Homo sapiens: one gene and its partners. The protein of the gene in region 1 interacts with the protein of each later gene in a pairwise test. Each region holds a gene or a part of one and is shown in the gene's direction. Other genes may lie near its edges.

What was found. The genes of interacting proteins can lie anywhere in the genome.
Region 2: the proteins of TRIM41 (region 1) and ZNF121 interact in binary tests that used the Homo sapiens proteins (3 or more experiments, as listed by UniProt).
Region 3: the proteins of TRIM41 (region 1) and ZNF329 interact in binary tests that used the Homo sapiens proteins (3 or more experiments, as listed by UniProt).

The regions. Positions count from the first base shown.
Region 1 is NC_000005.10:181,233,252-181,236,314, forward strand, and holds the end of TRIM41 (E3 ubiquitin-protein ligase TRIM41), read left to right. Parts: intron 1-161; coding exon 162-184; intron 185-384; coding exon 385-512; intron 513-922; coding exon 923-1,524; 3' UTR 1,525-1,680; coding exon of another isoform or gene 1,681-1,839; 3' UTR 1,840-2,102; coding exon of another isoform or gene 2,103-2,153; 3' UTR 2,154-2,557; downstream 2,558-3,063.
Region 2 is NC_000019.10:9,581,499-9,589,127, reverse strand, and holds the start of ZNF121 (zinc finger protein 121), read left to right. Parts: upstream 1-4,623; 5' UTR 4,624-4,667; intron 4,668-4,779; exon of another isoform or gene 4,780-4,942; intron 4,943-7,629. UniProt on the Homo sapiens protein: May be involved in transcriptional regulation.
Region 3 is NC_000019.10:58,140,784-58,147,818, reverse strand, and holds part of ZNF329 (zinc finger protein 329), read left to right. Parts: intron 1-4,620; 5' UTR 4,621-4,714; intron 4,715-5,157; 5' UTR 5,158-5,239; coding exon of another isoform or gene 5,240-5,262; intron 5,263-7,035. UniProt on the Homo sapiens protein: May be involved in transcriptional regulation.

The DNA.
Region 1 (3,063 bases):
TTGAAATGGATGTGTGTTCATTGAGGGCCGTGAGGGTGCTGCTTCTCCCTTCCTGCTCAGGTTCAGTCTCTGACTGGAGATCGGGGAACGCTGTCCCTGTGCAGCTGACACTCTCTTTATCTCTTTCTCCCTCTCCCTCTTTTTGTTTCTCTTATTCCCAGGACATCAAGGAGACTTTCAATAGGTGTGTTCCCAGTCTTTGCCCTTCGTGACCCAGTGGCATCTGGTTCCCTGTCCCTGCTTCTCTTCGGTATCCCTCTCCTCTCCTTCCTTCCCCAGGACCTGAGTTTCCATCTCCTGGACCCTCCTCTCCTTCCCCTCAGCTTTTGCTTTTCCCTCTGGGAATATCGTGGTCCCACCCCCTGCCCGGTCCCCTTCCTCCAGGTGTGAAGAGGTACAGCTGCAGCCCCCAGAGGTCTGGTCCCCTGACCCGTGCCAACCCCATAGCCATGACTTCCTGACAGATGCCATCGTGAGGAAAATGAGCCGGATGTTCTGTCAGGCTGCGAGAGGTAGGGAGGTCACCTCCACGACCTTCCTTTGCCTTTCCCTTCACAGACCTGAGACTGGGTCCTGAGGGAAGTTGGGCCCCAGGGAAACTGTGGGGCTTGAGATGGAGCAGGATCCAGGCAGCCACTCTGAGGTTGAGGTTTCAAGCCATGAGCAGGTAGACCTAGTGCAGGCAGGCCTGGAGGGTGGGGTGGGGTGGAGTGGCAGGAAGAGCCAGGCTGGGGGAAGACCTGTCAGGTATCCTAGGAACAAGAGTGAGGAGCAAGATGAGCCTGCAGGAATCTGAGGCTGGCCTCTGGGATGGTGTGGGGAGCTGGATTCAGGGAGAAAGGGGGCCCAATCTGTGGAGTTGGCTGCTGACAGGGGAACAGCCGTTCCAGCCCTGGCGTATTTGTCCTCCCTCCCTCCCAAGTGGACCTGACGCTGGACCCTGACACGGCTCACCCGGCCCTGATGCTGTCCCCTGACCGCCGGGGGGTCCGCCTGGCAGAGCGGCGGCAGGAGGTTGCTGACCATCCCAAGCGCTTCTCGGCCGACTGCTGCGTACTGGGGGCCCAGGGCTTCCGCTCCGGCCGGCACTACTGGGAGGTAGAGGTGGGCGGGCGGCGGGGCTGGGCGGTGGGTGCTGCCCGTGAATCAACCCATCATAAGGAAAAGGTGGGCCCTGGGGGTTCCTCCGTGGGCAGCGGGGATGCCAGCTCCTCGCGCCATCACCATCGCCGCCGCCGGCTCCACCTGCCCCAGCAGCCCCTGCTCCAGCGGGAAGTGTGGTGCGTGGGCACCAACGGCAAACGCTATCAGGCCCAGAGCTCCACAGAACAGACGCTGCTGAGCCCCAGTGAGAAACCAAGGCGCTTTGGTGTGTACCTGGACTATGAAGCTGGGCGCCTGGGCTTCTACAACGCAGAGACTCTAGCCCACGTGCACACCTTCTCGGCTGCCTTCCTGGGCGAGCGTGTCTTTCCTTTCTTCCGGGTGCTCTCCAAGGGCACCCGCATCAAGCTCTGCCCTTGATTATCCTGCCACCCGCAGGGGCCCCTCTGTCAGCACTTGGGGGGTGGGTGGTGGAGGGTGGCCCGTAAGTTTGAGGGCTCAAAGGCTCTTCCCACTGCTTGTTACTGTGTTGCTTCCCACTCCCCCTTGACCCCAGGCCCCTGCTTCTCCCTCTAGGAGCCTAAAGAACCCTCCTGGCCTCCAGCTCAGCCTTCTCTCACCTACTATGTCTGTCCAACAGGTCTGCATGGGTCCCTGATAATGAGAACAGCTGCCTGGTCTTCTCTCCCAGTCTGCCTAGCCCAGCCCTGGGACTGGAATTTGAGTAGGGGATGAGGGGAAATTGTAATTTCATTCCTTAACTTCCTTTTCCCCACCCCTGCTCTTCAACCTCTTTATCAGTTCTGAGGCTGGAGGGTTTGGGCAAGGCAACATCCCCATTCCAATTCCATTTTCTGATGCAGATTTTAGCTGAGGGATTTGGAAGCCATTTGGGGAGGCAGGCTGGGCCAAAGGGTAGAGCTGGGTAATAAATGTCTATTCTCCTGGGGAGGAGGGATTCTAAACTTTCCTTCCGTCCTCAATTTCTACCTCCATAGACCGGCCAGAATTTAGCTTCACTTGAGAGAGATCTGGAATGGTCGCCATGATTGAAACCACGCACCATTACATCATCATTACATTAATTACATCAACATAAATTATTTCTTCCCCCTTCCCTTTTCCAGCACTCAACCAAGGAGCAAAGCTCATCCCACCCCACACCCCTCCCAGGTCTGCTCACTGCCAGGCTCCTCTCCCCTTTGTTCAGTGGAGCTGGCTTTTCTCCCAGCCCCTTTCCATGCCTTTCACTCCATTTGGCAAGCTCTGAGGGGGAGCCTGGGGACGGGTTTGGGTCCCCAGGAGGAGAGCCTTGGGTATAATCTATTTTTCTAGGAGCCTCTTGCCTTGTCACTTGCAGCTTTCGCCCTCTGCTTTGATGGCTGAGGTGAACTCATGTTCTTTGGGAAAAGGGAAGGCGTGCTGTGGAAATAAAATGTTTATTTGCTTCTCTTGTGAGGTCTGTTCCTTCAGGTGAGGGTGTAACTCAGGATTTCTTCCTTTGCCGCCCCTGCAGTGAGAAGCCACACAACTGAACTGGTTAGTTGCAGTTAAAGGCATGCTTTGCACCTGTTACCAGGCAGGCTCCTATTTCAACAGGGATGTGGACCCTGCTCCCCATTTTAATATCTTAACCTAACTTACTAACTGTTCAGTCTACTTAGAGATGTTTGCCACACGTAGTTGAAACTGAAGCCAGAAATGCCTCATCACCATTATAAATTGAGGGGAGTAGGAAGTGGAGGGTGCATGTGGGCCTTCAATATGCTGTAGTTGCTTAGCACAGAAAATTGCAAGGGTAGTGGGGTCTCAGCCGCATGTTGAACCATTCCATCCCTGTACTGAGGTTTCTATTGGAAACTGTAATTGTAGTTTAATGGCTCACTTCTGGCCTTTCACAAGGCATCTATCCTCATGAATAAACTGTGTTTGTGTGTAGGGGGATTGAGGGCCAGGTTA
Region 2 (7,629 bases), on another chromosome or scaffold:
TCAATTTAAAGCCCAAAATCCAATAGCTGCAGGATTTAAGTCAATATTTTGGTAGGCGACAGTTAATAAAAATGTAGATTGGGTGGGCCGGGCGCGATGGCTCATGCCTGTAATCCCAGCACTTTGGGAGGCCGAGGCGGGCGGATCACAAGGTCAGGAGATTGAGACCATCCTGGGTAACGCGGTGAAACCCTGTCTCTACTAAAAATACAAAAAATTCACCGGGCATGGTGGCAGGTGCCTGTAGTCCCAACTACTCAGGAGGCTGAGGTAGGAGAATGGCATGAACCCAGGAGGCGGAGCTTGCAGTGAGCCAAGATCGCACCACTGCATTCCAGCCTGGGTGACAGAGTGAGACTCCATCTCAAAAAAAAAAAAATGTAGATTGGGTAAACTACATCTATTACAACCAACAGCGATTTATTAACTACACTAGAGATGCTGTTAAAGGAATAGCTGAGCAATTGGGGGCTACTAACCTGATGGCTTGGGAAAATAGGATAGCTTTAGACATGGTATTAGCAGAAAGAGGAGGAGTTTGCATCATTATTAAAACTCATTGTTGCAACTTCATCCCAAACAACACGGCCCCTAATGGAAGTATAAGAAAGGCATTGCAAGGCCTGACTCCTCTATCCAATGAGTTGGCCAGCAATTCAGGGGTAAATTACCCATTTACAGAATGGCTAGAAAAGTGGTTCGGTAAATGGAAAGGAATAATAGCCTCAATTCTCACCTCCCTTGTAGCCGTAATGGGTGTACTTATCCTTGTCAGGTGCCGTGTCATACCATGCATCTGTAGGTTGGTGCAGAGGCTCATAGAAATGGCACTTACTAAAACCTCCTTTAACTATCCTCCACCTTATCCAGAGAAGCTCCTTCTTTTGGAAAATCAAGCAGAACAACTAAGTCAAGACATGTTAAATAAGTTTGAAGAGAAAGCCATAAAAAAAATGCAAGAGGAGGAAGTTGTTGAAAATGAATTATAAATTTCTCTTCAAAGAATTAATATGTCAGTATGCTCAATTCTTTGCCTTCTACTTTTAAACTTAACTTCCTCATAAAGCACCCTTTTCCCAAACCGCTCACTCCATCACTCTCTTTAAATTAGTCAATCGGAATTAGTTTAGCCTGTGAGGTCCAACCCTAGCCAGTAGGGGAACGACAGAGCAGTAGGGACCACGTGTGTCAGGAATAAGAACCCCTTTCCCTCCCTTGTCCAGGTGTGTGCCCACCATTGCTCCATCTGTGAGAGTGCACCCTTCTATAGAAGTATCTTGCCTTGCTGAGAATTAAAAAGAAAATTTTATATTCAAGTGTTATTTCTTTTGTGGCACCAAAACTTTATATGTGACAGACTGGAAGTTCAAGAGCAGCCTGGGCAACATAGAGAGATCTCTTCTCTACCCAAAATATTTTTAAAAATTAGCTGGATGTGGTGGTGTACATATGTATTCCCTGGTACTTGGGCAGGAGGATTACTTGAGCTCACAAAGTAAAGGCTGCACTGAGCAATGATAACGCTACTACACTCCAGCCTGTGTGACAGAGTGAAACCCTGTCAAAAAGAAAAAAAAAAAGTAGAATGTGATTTTAAACATCAGAACTAAACAGAATGATATGCTCAGAGAGGTTTCCCTATCCCTATCCTCTCCATTTTGTTCTTATCCCACCATTCTGTTCAAGCCCTTCCCATCTATCCCCGATAGATTCTGAATCTTATTATTTTCAGGATAGTCCTATCAGTGTTTCCCTGTACTCAGAATGAACAGATAATTACATATTTTATTTTTATTTTTTTGAGACTGAGTCTCACTCTATCGCCCAGGCTGGAGTGCAATGGCGCGATCTTGGCTCAATACAACCGCCGCTTCCCGGGTATAAGCAATTCTCCTGCCTCATCCTCCCGAGTAGCTGGGATTACAGGCGCCCGCCACCATGCCCGGCTAATTTTTGTATTTTTAGTAGAGGCGGAGTTTCACCATGTTGGCCAGACTTGTCCTTCAGAACTTTTTAACTGGAAGATATGCTGCCAGGCTGCTGAGCATCGTCACTTAGTCATATAAGCCCCCTCTTTGATTCCCCTTCTCCTCTGGGAGTCTTTCTTCCTTTCCACCCTTTCTGAGCAGCGACCCACAGGTAGAAGCCTGTGGATATTCTCTTGCTGTTTGCTACCTCCCGCCACTCCTTACCTGTCAAAGCACATCCCAAATGAAGCTTGTGTGCTACTGCCGCCTTGTGGTCACGTCTTTTTCCTTACTCAGCCAAGAAATCACTTACACCCTGAATGCGTATATGGTTTTATTTTTCACATTTAGATCCCTAGTCCATTTAGAGTTTATTCTTGTATATGCTGTGAAGTATGGATTTAATTTCATCTTTTCTCTGATGGCTACCCAGCTGTCTTAGACTTTCCATTACAAATGGCTTTTTTTGCCTCATTGATCTGAAATACCTTTTTTTTTTTTTTTTGAGATGGATTTTCACTCTTGTTGCCCAGGCTGGAGTCCAGTGGCGCGATCTCGGCTCACTGCAACCTCTGCCTTCTGGGTTTCAGCGATTCTCCTGCCTCAGCCTCCCGAATAGCTGGGATTACAGAAAGCCCACCACCATGCTTGGCTAATTTTATTTTTGTATTTTTATTAGAGACAGGGTTTCACCATGTTGGACAGGCTGGTTTCGAACTCCTGACTTCAGGTGATCCTCCCGCCTCAGCCTCCCAAATTGCTAGGATTACAGGTATGAGCCACCGCGCCTGGCAAAATACCACATTTATGAACCAAATTCCTACATGTTCTTGGGTCTGTTTTTAGATATTTTATTAGTCTGTTTCTGCTTCATGTGCTAGTACCACATAGTTTTAATTATAGAGGCTTTATAGTATGTCTTATTTATTTTTATTTTAATATAATTTAATTATTTGCCTTGTGTGAAAACTGTTAATAGTATGTTTTAACATCTGCTGCTCATCATTGCTTTTGTTTTTGTTTTCTTGGTTATTATCAGATATTTATTCTTCCACATAAACTTTAGTATCAACGTACCTAACTCCAGAAAAAACTTTTAATATTTTTACTGGGATTATGTTACATTTCTGAATAAACCTGGGGAGAATGTCTGGTGTCAGTGCTATTTTACAATGTAGGAAATGTGGTCCTGGCCCATGTGGGAAGATCAGAAAAATAACAATAGAAATACATGTTTTTGGCCAGGCGTGGTGGCTCACATCTGTAATCCCAGCACTTTGGAAAGGTGAGGCAGGCGGATCATGAGGTCAGGAGTTCGAGACCAACTGGGCCAATATGGTGAAACCCTGTCTTTACTAAAAATACAAAAATTAGCCGGGCATGGCGGCGCCTGCCTGTAATCTCTGCTACTCAGGAGGCTGAGAGAGAAGAATCGCTTGAACCCGGGAGGCAGAGGTTGCAGTGAGCAAGATCGTGCCACTGCACTCCAGCCTGGGCAACAGAGCTAGACTCCATCTCAAAACAAAAACAAAAACATATTTAAAATTTTTTTTAAACAGAGACGGGGTCTTGCTGTATTGCCCAGGCTGGTCTCAAACTCCTGGCCTCAAACGATCCCTTGGCCTCCCAAATTGCTGGGATTATAGGCATAAGCCACCATACCCAGCCAGAAATACATACTTGATGAAGACAAAAAAAAATCAAGATTTACAGAAAATATTATTATATTGAAAACGTGGCCGGGTGCGGTGGCTCATGTCTATAATTCCAGCACTTTGGGAAGCTGAGGGAGACAGATCATTGGAGGTCAGGAGTTCGAGATCAGTCTGGCCATCATGGTGAAACTCTTCTCTACTAAAAGTACAAAAATTAGCTGGGCGTGGAGGCAGACATCTGTAATCCCAGCTACTCGGGAGGTTGAGGCAGGAGAATCACTTGAACCCGGGGGGCAGAGGTTACAGTGAGCCGAGGTCATGCCACTGCACTCCAGCCTGGGCAACAGAGTGAGATCTGTCTCAAAAAAAAATAAAAAATGAAAAAGAAAAACGAAAAAAGAAAACGCAATGGAACCAGCAGGTTCTAAAAAATAAAGAATGAAGAAATAAAGGCCTACAGAAAGCCTGACTGAATAGAAGAGATAGACCATGCCATTCACTGGCAGCTTTATCCATATGGAAGAATCATGGAAAGGCTCTAGGAACATGAGATGTATACAAACAAGCTTTATATATATGTATACACACATATATATTTTAATAAAGGATGTTGCTATTTTGCCCACGCTGGTCTTGAACTCTTGGACTCAAGCTATCCACCTGCCTTAGCCTCCCAAAGTGTTGGACTTACAGGCCTTAGCCACTGTGCCCACCTGGGAAAAGCTCTGCAGGAGCATCCCCTGGGGTGCGTCCCATCCCCCACGCCCGCCCTTCCAGCAGGTCCGGCCACCTGAACCGCCGGCTAGCCGGGTCCCACCTCTAAACCGCCCCCAAGTAAGGGCCTGTCCGCGCCCACCCGGGAAGAAACTACAATTTCTGTGTTTGACTGGGTCCTATGTGGCTGAAACTCGAACCCAGGAGCCCCGCCCGGCCCGAGGCTCGGAGCGGAAGTGACGTCAGCGCACAATCGCCATCTTTTCCGGCGCTGGCTCCGCATGGTCAGTGCCATTTCGCCTTTATCGTGGTGGAGTCCACCCTGGCTGTGGTGAGTTCCGCCTGCTTGGGGATCCCGGAGATAGCGGGGGGCGGCAAAGGAACGATTGGGTGCTGTCGCCCAGGAGCCTCTCCGATCCGCCTCGTTTCACTCTCTTCTCCAGGGGCTGTCGGTCCTCCTTGCGCGGCCAGTGGCTAGAGGCCGCAGGCTCAGTGGGTCCCAGTCAGGAGCCAGGTCGGGAAGTGTGTTTGTCCCGACTCCGCGCGTTTTCTGGAGTGGTTTCATCCGCTGTGCTCCCTTCTTCAAAAGCTTGGAAAGCAACCTTTGTGAGTTTCTTTCTTTCTGAAAGTAAAAGGATTTCTGCCGTTCCAGTCAGGTTGGCTCCGGCCCCGCATTTCCGCGCCTCAGGAACCTGGCGTTTCCGGCATGTTCCTGGTGAACACCTGCAGAAAATTGGTTTCAAGAGGGCTCTGACTTCCATTTCTTTGCTTAAAAATGTCTCGTCTGAGAATCTGGCATTGATGTCCTATTCTTATTTTTGACACATTACTTTCTGATGGAAAAAAAATAGTCGTTTAGGGTGTGCCTATATCTGCATGTAAATATGAACACGTGTAGACTGTGAGCCTTTAGTTTCTTATTTTATTTTCTTGGACTTAATGTTTTTTGTTGTTACCAGCTACAAGCCTTTCTACAAAAGAAAGGCAGGCTGGGCGCGCTGGCTCACGCCTGTAGTCCCAGCCATTTGGGAGGTCGAGGCGGGCAGATCACCTGAGGTCAGGAGTTCGAGACCAGCCTGGCCAACATGGTGAAACCCTGTCTCTACTAAAAATACAAAAAATTAGCCAGGCGCGATGGCGGGCGCCTGTAGTCCCAGCTACTCGGGAGGCTGAGGCAGGAGAATGGCGTGAACCCGGGAGGCGGAGCTTGCAGTGAGCCGAGATCGCGCCACTGCACTCCAGCCTGGGCAAAAGAGGGAGACTCCGTCTCACACACACAAAAAAAAAAAAAAAAAAAAAAAAGCCAGGCTTGGTGGCAGTCCCCTGTAATCCTAGCTACTTGGGAGGCTGAGGCAGGAGGATTGCTTGAACCTGAGAGGCCGAGGTTGCAGTGAGCCGAGATCTGCCACTGCACTCCAGCCTGGGCGATGAGAGCGAAACTCCGTCTCAAAAAAGAAAGAAAGGCAATAATACACAGCTGTTGTCTTTATCTGAAGTTCCTAGGTCTGTACCCCCCCACAGAGCTTCAAAACGGGCCCACAGGAAGAAAGGATGGAGGCTTTTGTTTGTTTTTTTCAGACGGAGTCTTGCTCTGTCGCCCAGGCTGGAGTGCAGTGGCGCGATCTCAGCTCACTGCAACCTCCACCTCCTGGGTTCAAGTGATTCTCCTGCCTCAGCCTCCGAGTAGCAGGGACAACAGGCATGGGGACCATGCCCAGCTAATTTTTTTTTTTTGTATTTTTAGTGGAGACAGGGTTTCACCATGCTCGCCAGGCTGGTCTCGAACTCCTGACCTTGTAATCCGCCTGACGGCCTCCCAAAGAGCTGGGATTACAGGCGTGAGCCTCCGCTCCTGGCCAGGATGGAGGCTTTATAATCAGAATATTATTCTAGTATTAGTGTAATAAAGTAGTATCTATTGAATTTATTAACAGCATGTTTAGACTAAGTGTAGTTTTGACATTTTTTTCTGAAAAATTTGATCCTAGGGAAAACTTGAACATCTAACACACCCAGTCTAGTAGTTTTTTTTTTTTTTTTTTTGAGACAGAGTCTCGCTCTGCTACCCGGGTCGGGGTGCAGAGGTGCGATCTCGGCTCACTGCAACCTCTGCCTCCCAGGTTCAAGTAATTCTCCTGCCTCCCTAGCATTAGGTGCGTCCATGTGAAGAGACCACCAAACAGGCTTTGTATGAGCAATAAAGCTTTTAATCACCTGGGTGCAGGCAGACTGAGTTCAGAAAAGGAGTCAGCAAAGGGAGATAGGGGTCGGGCAGTTTTATAGGATTTGGGTAGATAGTGGAAAATTACAGTTAAAGGAGGTTGTTCTCTTGCGGGCAGGGGCGGGGATCACAAGGTGCTCAGTGGGGAGCTCCTGAGATTCATTGTCCAGGAGAAGGAATGTCACAAGGTCAATTGATCAGTTAGGTTGGGGCAGGAACAAATCACAATGGTGGAATGTCATCAGTTAAGGCAGGAACTAGCTATTTTCGCTTCTTCTTGTTGTTCTTCAGTTGCTTCAGGCCATCTGGATGTATACGTGCAGGTCACAGGGAGTCTGATGGCTTGGCTTCGGCTCAGAGGCCTGACACCTAGTAGCTGGGACACAGGCACATGCCGCCATGCCCAGCTAATTTTTTTTTGTATTTTAGTAGAGACAAGGTTTCACCATGTTGGCCAGGCTGGTCTCGAAATCCTGAGCTCAGGCAGTTCACCTGCTTCGGCCTCCCAAAATGCTGGGATTACAGGTGTGAGCCACTGTGCCTGAACACTTACTTTTTGAGCATTGTGCTTGTTTTCTTTCACCTCAGGTAAATACATTTTATGGTGAACAATTTGAGTGTAAATTGAGCATAATTGCACACGTGATACTTGACCTTTAAATACTTGGTAATGCATCGCCTAAAAAAATAGCACTGTCATTCTGAAACCACAATACTAGTATTTCACTTAAATAAAAAATAATAATGTCATCTAATGTCTGCTTTTTATAATAACTAAAATTCTCCGCATTGATTCAACGTATGCTCTTGGATGTTTTTGGGTTTAAGATCCATTCAAGATTTTTACATTGCAATTGTTAATGTTTTCAGTGTCTTTTTACCTAGAACAGTTATTATTGTATATTATATTGACTTTTGGAGAGTCACACTGTGGGATATGAGGATATGATGAGGTTTCTCTTCAAATAATCTCATCAATCTTTTATTCTCTAATTCATAGTACCCCCCCTTTTTCTCCTTTTTTCTCCTTTTTGCCTTTGTTAGATGCCCAGGCATGCCACAGTACAAAGCG
Region 3 (7,035 bases), on another chromosome or scaffold:
CTCACCTCCCGGACGGGGCGGCTGGCCGGGTGGGGGGGCTGACCCCCCCCACCTCCCTCCCGGACGGGGCGGCTGGCCGGGCAGAGGGTCTCCTCACTTCCCAGTGGGGCAGCCGGGCAGAGGCGCCCCTCATCTCCCAGACAGGGCGGCTGGCCGGGCGGGGGGCTGGCCCCCCACCTCCCTCCTGGACGGGGCGTCTGGCCAGGCGGAGGGCTGACCCCCCCACCTCCCTCCCGGACGGGGCGGCTGGCCGGGCGGGGGGCTGACCCCCCCACCTCCCTCCCGGGCGGGGCGGCTGGCCGGGCAGAGGGGCTCCTCACTTCCCAGTAGGGGCGGCTGGGCAGAGGCGCCCCTCACCTCCCGGACGGGGCGGCTGGCCGGGCGGGGGGCTGGCCCCCCACCTCCCTCCTGGACGGGGTGGCTGCCAGGCGGAGACGCTCCTCACTTCCCAGACGGGGTGGCTGCCGGGCGGAGGGGCTCCTCACTTCTCAGACGGGGCGGCTGCCTGGCGGAGGGGCTCCTCACTTCTCAGACGGGGCGGTTGCCAGGCGGAGGGTCTCCTCACTTCTCAGACGGGGCGGCTGGGCAGAGACGCTCCTCACCTCCCAGACGGGGTCGCGGCCGGGCAGAGGCGCTCCTCACATCCCAGATGGGGCGGCGGGGCAGAGGCGCTCCCCACATCTCAGACGATGGGCGGCCGGGCAGAGACGCTCCTCACTTCCTAGATGGGATGGCGGCCGGGCAGAGACGCTCCTCACTTTCCAGACTGGGCAGCCAGGCAGAGGGGCTCCTCACGTCCCAGATGATGGGCGGCCAGGCAGAGATGCTCCTCACTTCCCAGACAGGGTGGCGGCCGGGCAGAGGCTGCACTCTCGGCACTTTGGGAGGCCAAGGCAGGTGGCTGGGAGGTGGAGGTTGTAGCAAGCCAAGATCACGCCACTGCACTCCAGCCTGGGCACCATTGAGCACTGAGTGAACCAGACTCCGTCTGCAATCCCGGCACCTCGGGAGGCCGAGGCTGGCGGATCACTCGTGGTTAGGAGCTGGAGACCAGCCTGGCCAACACAGCGAAACCCCGTCTCCACCAAAAAAATACGAAAACCAGTCAGGCGTGGCGGCGCGTGCCTGCAATTGCAGGCACTCGGCAGGCTGAGGCGGGAGAATCAGGCAGGGAGGTTGCAGTGAGCCGAGATGGCAGCAGTACCGTCCAGCTTCGGCTCGGCATCAGAGGGAGACCGTGGAAAGAGAGGGAGAGGGAGACCGTGGGGAGAGGGAGAGGGGGAGGGGGAGAGGGAGAGGGACTACCTTCCTCTCTTGACCAGGTACCACCTACTTTTTTTTTTTAAAGATGGAATCTTACTCCGTCACCCAGGGTAGAGTGCAGTGGAGCGATCTCGGCTCACTGCAACCTCTACTTCCCAGGCTCAAGTGGTTTTCCTGCCTCAGCCTCCCAAGTAGCTGGAATTACAGGTGTGTGCCACTATGCCCAGCTAATATTTGTATTTTTAGTAGAGACGGGGTTCCGCCATGTTGGCCAGGCTGGTCTTGAACTCCTGACTTCAAGTGATCTGCCCACCTTGGCCTCCTACAGTGCTGGGATTACAGGTGTGAGCCACTGCGCCTGGCCCCAGATACTTTATTATTGATACAGAATTCCTGTCTGATATAGTTTGTATGCAGCTGATACAGTTTGTATGGTTTTTGGGTATTTGTTTTGATCCAGGATCCAATCCAGGATCCTGTGTTACATTGACTTGTCATGTTATTTTAGTCTTCCTCAACCTTGAATGGCACTCTCCTTTCTTTTTTTTTTTTTTTCATGAAATTGATATATTTTTAAAAGACCCAGCTGGTGGTTGTGTAGATTGTCACTTGATGTTCAGTTGACATTCCCAATATTAAATTCAGACTCTCGTCTTTGGCAGGGCATTGTCTAAGTGACATCATGTTCTTCTTGGTGTGTCGTGTCAGGAAGCATGTGAGGCTGGTGGTGATCAGGTTTTTGTCATGTGGTTAAAGTGCTCTCTGCCAGGATCCTCCGCTTTTTCCCCTCTGTAATTGATAAGCCATTCTAGAGATGGTACTTTGAATGTTCTTTTAATCTTATGTTCATGGTGTATTACTCATTTTGATATAGTAAGATGTTTCAAATCTTTTTCTTTATGTTTTGTGCCTTTTGTGAGTTGAGAAATTCTTTGGCTTGGCGCAGTGGCTCGCGCCTATAATCCCAGCACCTTGGGAAGCTGAGGCGGGTAGATCACTTGAGGTCAGGAGTTCAACACCAGCCTGGCCGACATGGTGAAACCCCATCTCTACTAAAAATATAAAAATTAGCTGGGTATGGTGGTGGGCACATGTAATCCAAGCTACTCAGGCAGCTGAGGCAGGAGAATCACTTAAACCCAGGAGGCGGAGGTTGCAGTGAGCTGAGATCATGCCACTACACTCCAGCCTGGGTGACAGAGTGAGGCACTGTCTCCAAAAAAAAAAAAAAAAAAAAAAAAGGAAGAAAAAAGAAATTTTTTTTGGCTTGATGTAGTGGTGGCTCACGCCTTAATCCCAGCACTTTGGGAATCTGAGGCTGGAGGATCACTTGAGCTCAGGAGTTTGAAACCAGCCTGGGCAACACAGTGAGACCCAATCTCTACAAAACATTTAAAAAAAAAAAATGGCCAGGCGCGGTGGCTCACGCCTGTAATTCCAGCACTTTGGGAGGCCGAGGCGGGCGGGTCACGAGGTCAGGAGATCGAGACCATCTTGGCTAACATGGTGAAACCCCGTCTGTACTAAAAATACAAAAAATTAGCCAGGCATGGTGGCAGGCACCTGAAGTCCCAGCTACTCGGGAGGCTGAGGCAGGAGAATGGCGTGAACCCGGGAGGCAGAGCTTGCAGTGAGCAGAGATCGCACCACTGCACTCCAGCCTGGGTGACAGATCAAAACTCTGTATCAAAAAAAAAAAAAAAAAGAAAAAAAATTATCCAGGTGTGATGGCATACTCCTATGGTCATGGCTCCTGAGCCCAGGCATTCAAGATTACAGTGAGCCATGATCATACTACTGCATTCAAGCCTGAGCATCAAAGCAAGACTCTGTCTCTTTAAAAAAAAAAAAAAAAAAAAAAATTCTTGGCTGGGCGCCATGGCTCATGCCTGTAATCCTAGCATTTTGGGAGGTCGAGGCAGGCAGATCACCTGAGGTCAGGAGTTCAAGATCAGCCTGGCCGACTTGGTGAAACCCCATCTCTATTAAAAATATAAACAATTAGCCGAGTGTGGTGACGCGTGCCTGTAATCCCAACTACTCGGGAGGCTGAGGCACGAGAGTCACTTGAACCCAGGAAGCGGAGGTTGCAGTGAGCCGAGATCGCGCCACTGCACTCCAGCCCAGCTACAGAGCGAGACTCCGTCTCAAAAAAAAAATATATATATATATATAGATAGATAGATAGATAGATAGATAGATATAGATGTAAAATTAGCTGCGTGTGGTGGCAGGTACCTGTAGTCCTGGCTACTCAGGAGGCTGAGGCAAGAGAATTGCTTGAACCCAGGAGGCGGAGGTTGCAGTGAGTTGAGATCACGCCACTGCACTCCAGCCTGGGCAACAGAGCAAGACTCCATCTGAAAAATAAAAAAATAAAAAATAACAACAACAAAAAAACCCACAATTTTTTTCTACTCTGATAACTCAAAGATATTCTTGTAGTTCTATATTTATTTATTTATTTATTTTTTGAGACTGAGTCTCGCTGTTGTTGCCCGGGCTGGAGTGAAATGGTGCAATCTCGGCTCACTGCAACCTCTGCCTCCCGGGTTCCAGCAATTCTTCTCCCTCAGCCTCCCGAGTAGCTGAGATTACGGGCGCCTGCCACCACGCCTGGCTAATTTTTGTATTTCTAGTAGAGACAGGGTTTCACTATGTTGGCCAGGCTGGTCTCGAACTCCTGACCTCGGGTGATCCACTTGCCTCGGCCTCCCAAAGTCCTGGGATTATAAGTGTGAGCCACTGCGCCCAGCCTAGTTCTATTATTTCTAATCATTCAAAAAAATTTTTTCTCACATACTATTTAGGTCTTATAAGCCTGTGTGTGAGCGTGAGTGAATTTGGAATTGTAATTATTTTTCCATCTGAAAAGACAGCACGAGATATACTTACTTTTGCTAATGTGTGAGGCCACCTTTATCACCTTTTAAATTATTAAATGCCTCCAAGTCTGTTTGGGGCTCTGTCCTTCCTGTACCTTCACTGGGTTGCTTGCTTACTGGAACTTTAAGGAGGAGCCTTGACTTTGGCAAAACAACTACTCCTAGCTCTTTTTCCTCTCTTCTTTTTGTTTTTTAAGGAGTTGTCATGGATATTTCAGGAAGCTGTCTTCTTCAGTGTGAATTTTGTCACGCATCAGTAAAATTATTCCAGAGATTTGCTTGGAAGGCATTGCTTTTACAGGTCTAGTGAGAGTTGTCCTGGTTTCAGTACCCAGCCCTTTCATCTGTGTACCTGGTCTAGCTCCTCTCTTACTCAAATGCCCTCTCAGGTCTTGAGTAAACTTTTTCAAGTTTTCACCACAAAGATACTATATAATTTTTGTTAATTTTTGTTTTCTTTTTTTTGAGATAGGGTCTTGCTGTCTCACCCAGGCTGGAGTGCAGTGGCACGATCACAGCTCACTGCAGCCTTGAGCTCCTGGGCTACCAAGTAGCTGGGACTTCAGGTATGCACCATCACGCCTGGCTAAAGGCATTTCACTACATTGTCTAAGCTGGCCTTGAACTCCTAGGCTCAAGTGATCCTCCTGCCTCAACCTCCCAAAGTGCTGGTATTACAGGTGTTATCCAGTGCACCCGGCTGTGGCTGGGCTTTCACTGTGATTAGGTAATGGGGTTGGGGTTGGGGCTTGCATAGTTTGAACTTCCTGCTGGCACCAAGGAGGAAACTCCCAGACTTTCTTGTTGGCTTGCCCAGATGAGAGGGAGAAGGAGAAAGGGGTTGGGGCTTGAAAGCTGTCAGCAACCATCCAAAATGGAGTCAGACTCTTTATCACACTTGTAATCACATGGCTGACTTTGTCAGGATGGGATTAAAGTTGGTAAATGATTTATTTTTGTTAATGAGTTGTGAACAAGTAAAGTAAACATTATTATGGGTGTCCCACAGAGATGGCTGGAGCCGTGTGGATGGGCATAAATGGCTAATGTCCAGCAACCATCGATGTCAAGTATCCACACACCTGGCCTGAATGGATCCCTCTGCCTTTCAGAGGTGAGTACCAGGGAATGGAAGTCTACATGAGCTCAGCACATCCCTGCAAGGACTGTTATTTCCTTTATAAAGTCCTAAAATACCAGAAATGTGGCAGATGGGGTCTAGACTAGTGGTTCTGACCCTTACAGACTCGACACATACTTACTCTTTTAAACAGCTTTATTGAGATATAATTCACATAGCATACAATTTACCCTTTTAAGTGTACAATTCATTGTTTTTTATTATATTAACTAGCTTGTATATCCATTGCCACAGTCAATCTTCGAATGTTTTCATCACCCCTGAAAAAGAAAACCCATACCATTAGCAGTCACTCCCCCATCTTTCCCAGCCCTAGGTAATCTCTAATCTACTTTCTGTCTTATAGATTTGCCTGTTATGGACATTTCATATAAATAGCCTGCAGTATGTGGTCTTTTGTATGTGGCTTGTTAGACTTAGGAAAATGTTTCATGTTATAGCATGGGTCTTTTTTTATTTTATTTTATTTTTGAGATGTAGTCTTGCTCTGTCACCCGAGCTGGAGTACAGTGGCACGATCAGGGCTCACTGCAAACTGCTTCCCAGGTTCAAGCAATTCTCCTGCCTCAGCCTCCCTAGTAGCTGGGATTACAGGCGAGGGCCACCATACCCGGCTAATTTGTTTTTTTTTTTTTTGAGATGGAGGTTCGCTCTTGTTGCCCAGGCTGGAGTGCAATGGCATGATCTCGGCTCACTGCAACCTCCGCCTCTTGGGTTCAAGCGATTCTCCTGCCTCAGTCTTCCGAGTAGCTGGGACTACAGGTGCATGCCACCATGCCTGGCTAATTTTTTGTATTTTTAGTAGAGATGGGGTTTCACCGTGTTACCCAGGCTGGTCTTGAATTCCTGAGCTCAAATGATCCACCTGCCTCAGCCACCCAAAGTGCTGGGATTACAGGCATGAACCACTGCACCTGGCCAAGAGCATTAGGCCAGGCCGGGCACAGTGGCTTATGCCTGTAATCGCAGCACTTTGGGAGGCCAAGGCAGGCTGATCACCTTAGGTCAGGAGTTCAAGACTAGCCTCACCAACATGGAGAAACCCCGTCTCTACTGAAAATACAAAAATTAGGCATGGTGGCACATGCCTGTAATCCCAGGTACTCGGGAGACTGAGTCAGGAGAATCACTTGAACCCGGGAGGAGGAGGTTGCAGTGAGCTGAGATCGCTCCACTGCACTTCAGTCTGGGCAACACAGCGAGACTCTGTCTCAGAAAAAAAAAAAGAGTGTTAAGCCAGGCGTGGTGGCTCACAACTGTAATCCCAGCACTTTGGAAGGCTGAGGTGGGAGGATTGCTTGAGCCCAGGAGTTCAAGACCAGCCTGGCCCATATAGTGAGACCTCATCTCTACCAAAAAAAAAAGAAAAATTTAGGCTGGGTGTGGTGGCTCACGTCTGTAATCCCAGCACTTTGCGAGGCTGAGACATGCAGATCCCTTGAGGTTAGGAGTTTAGGACCAGCCTGGCCAACATGGTGAAACCCTGTCTACTAAAAATAGAAAAATTAGCCAGGCATGGGGGCATGTGCCACTTAAGAGGCCAAGGCAAGAGAATCGCTTGAGCACAGGAGGTGGAGGTTGCAGTGAGCTGAGATCATGCCACTGTACTCCAGCCTGAGACAGAGTGAGATTCTAACTCAAAAAAAAAAAAAAAATTATGTGTGATGGTGTGCAACTGTGGTCCCAGCTACTCAGGAAGCTGAGGTGGGAGGATCACTTGAGCCCAGGAGATTGAGGCTGTGTTGA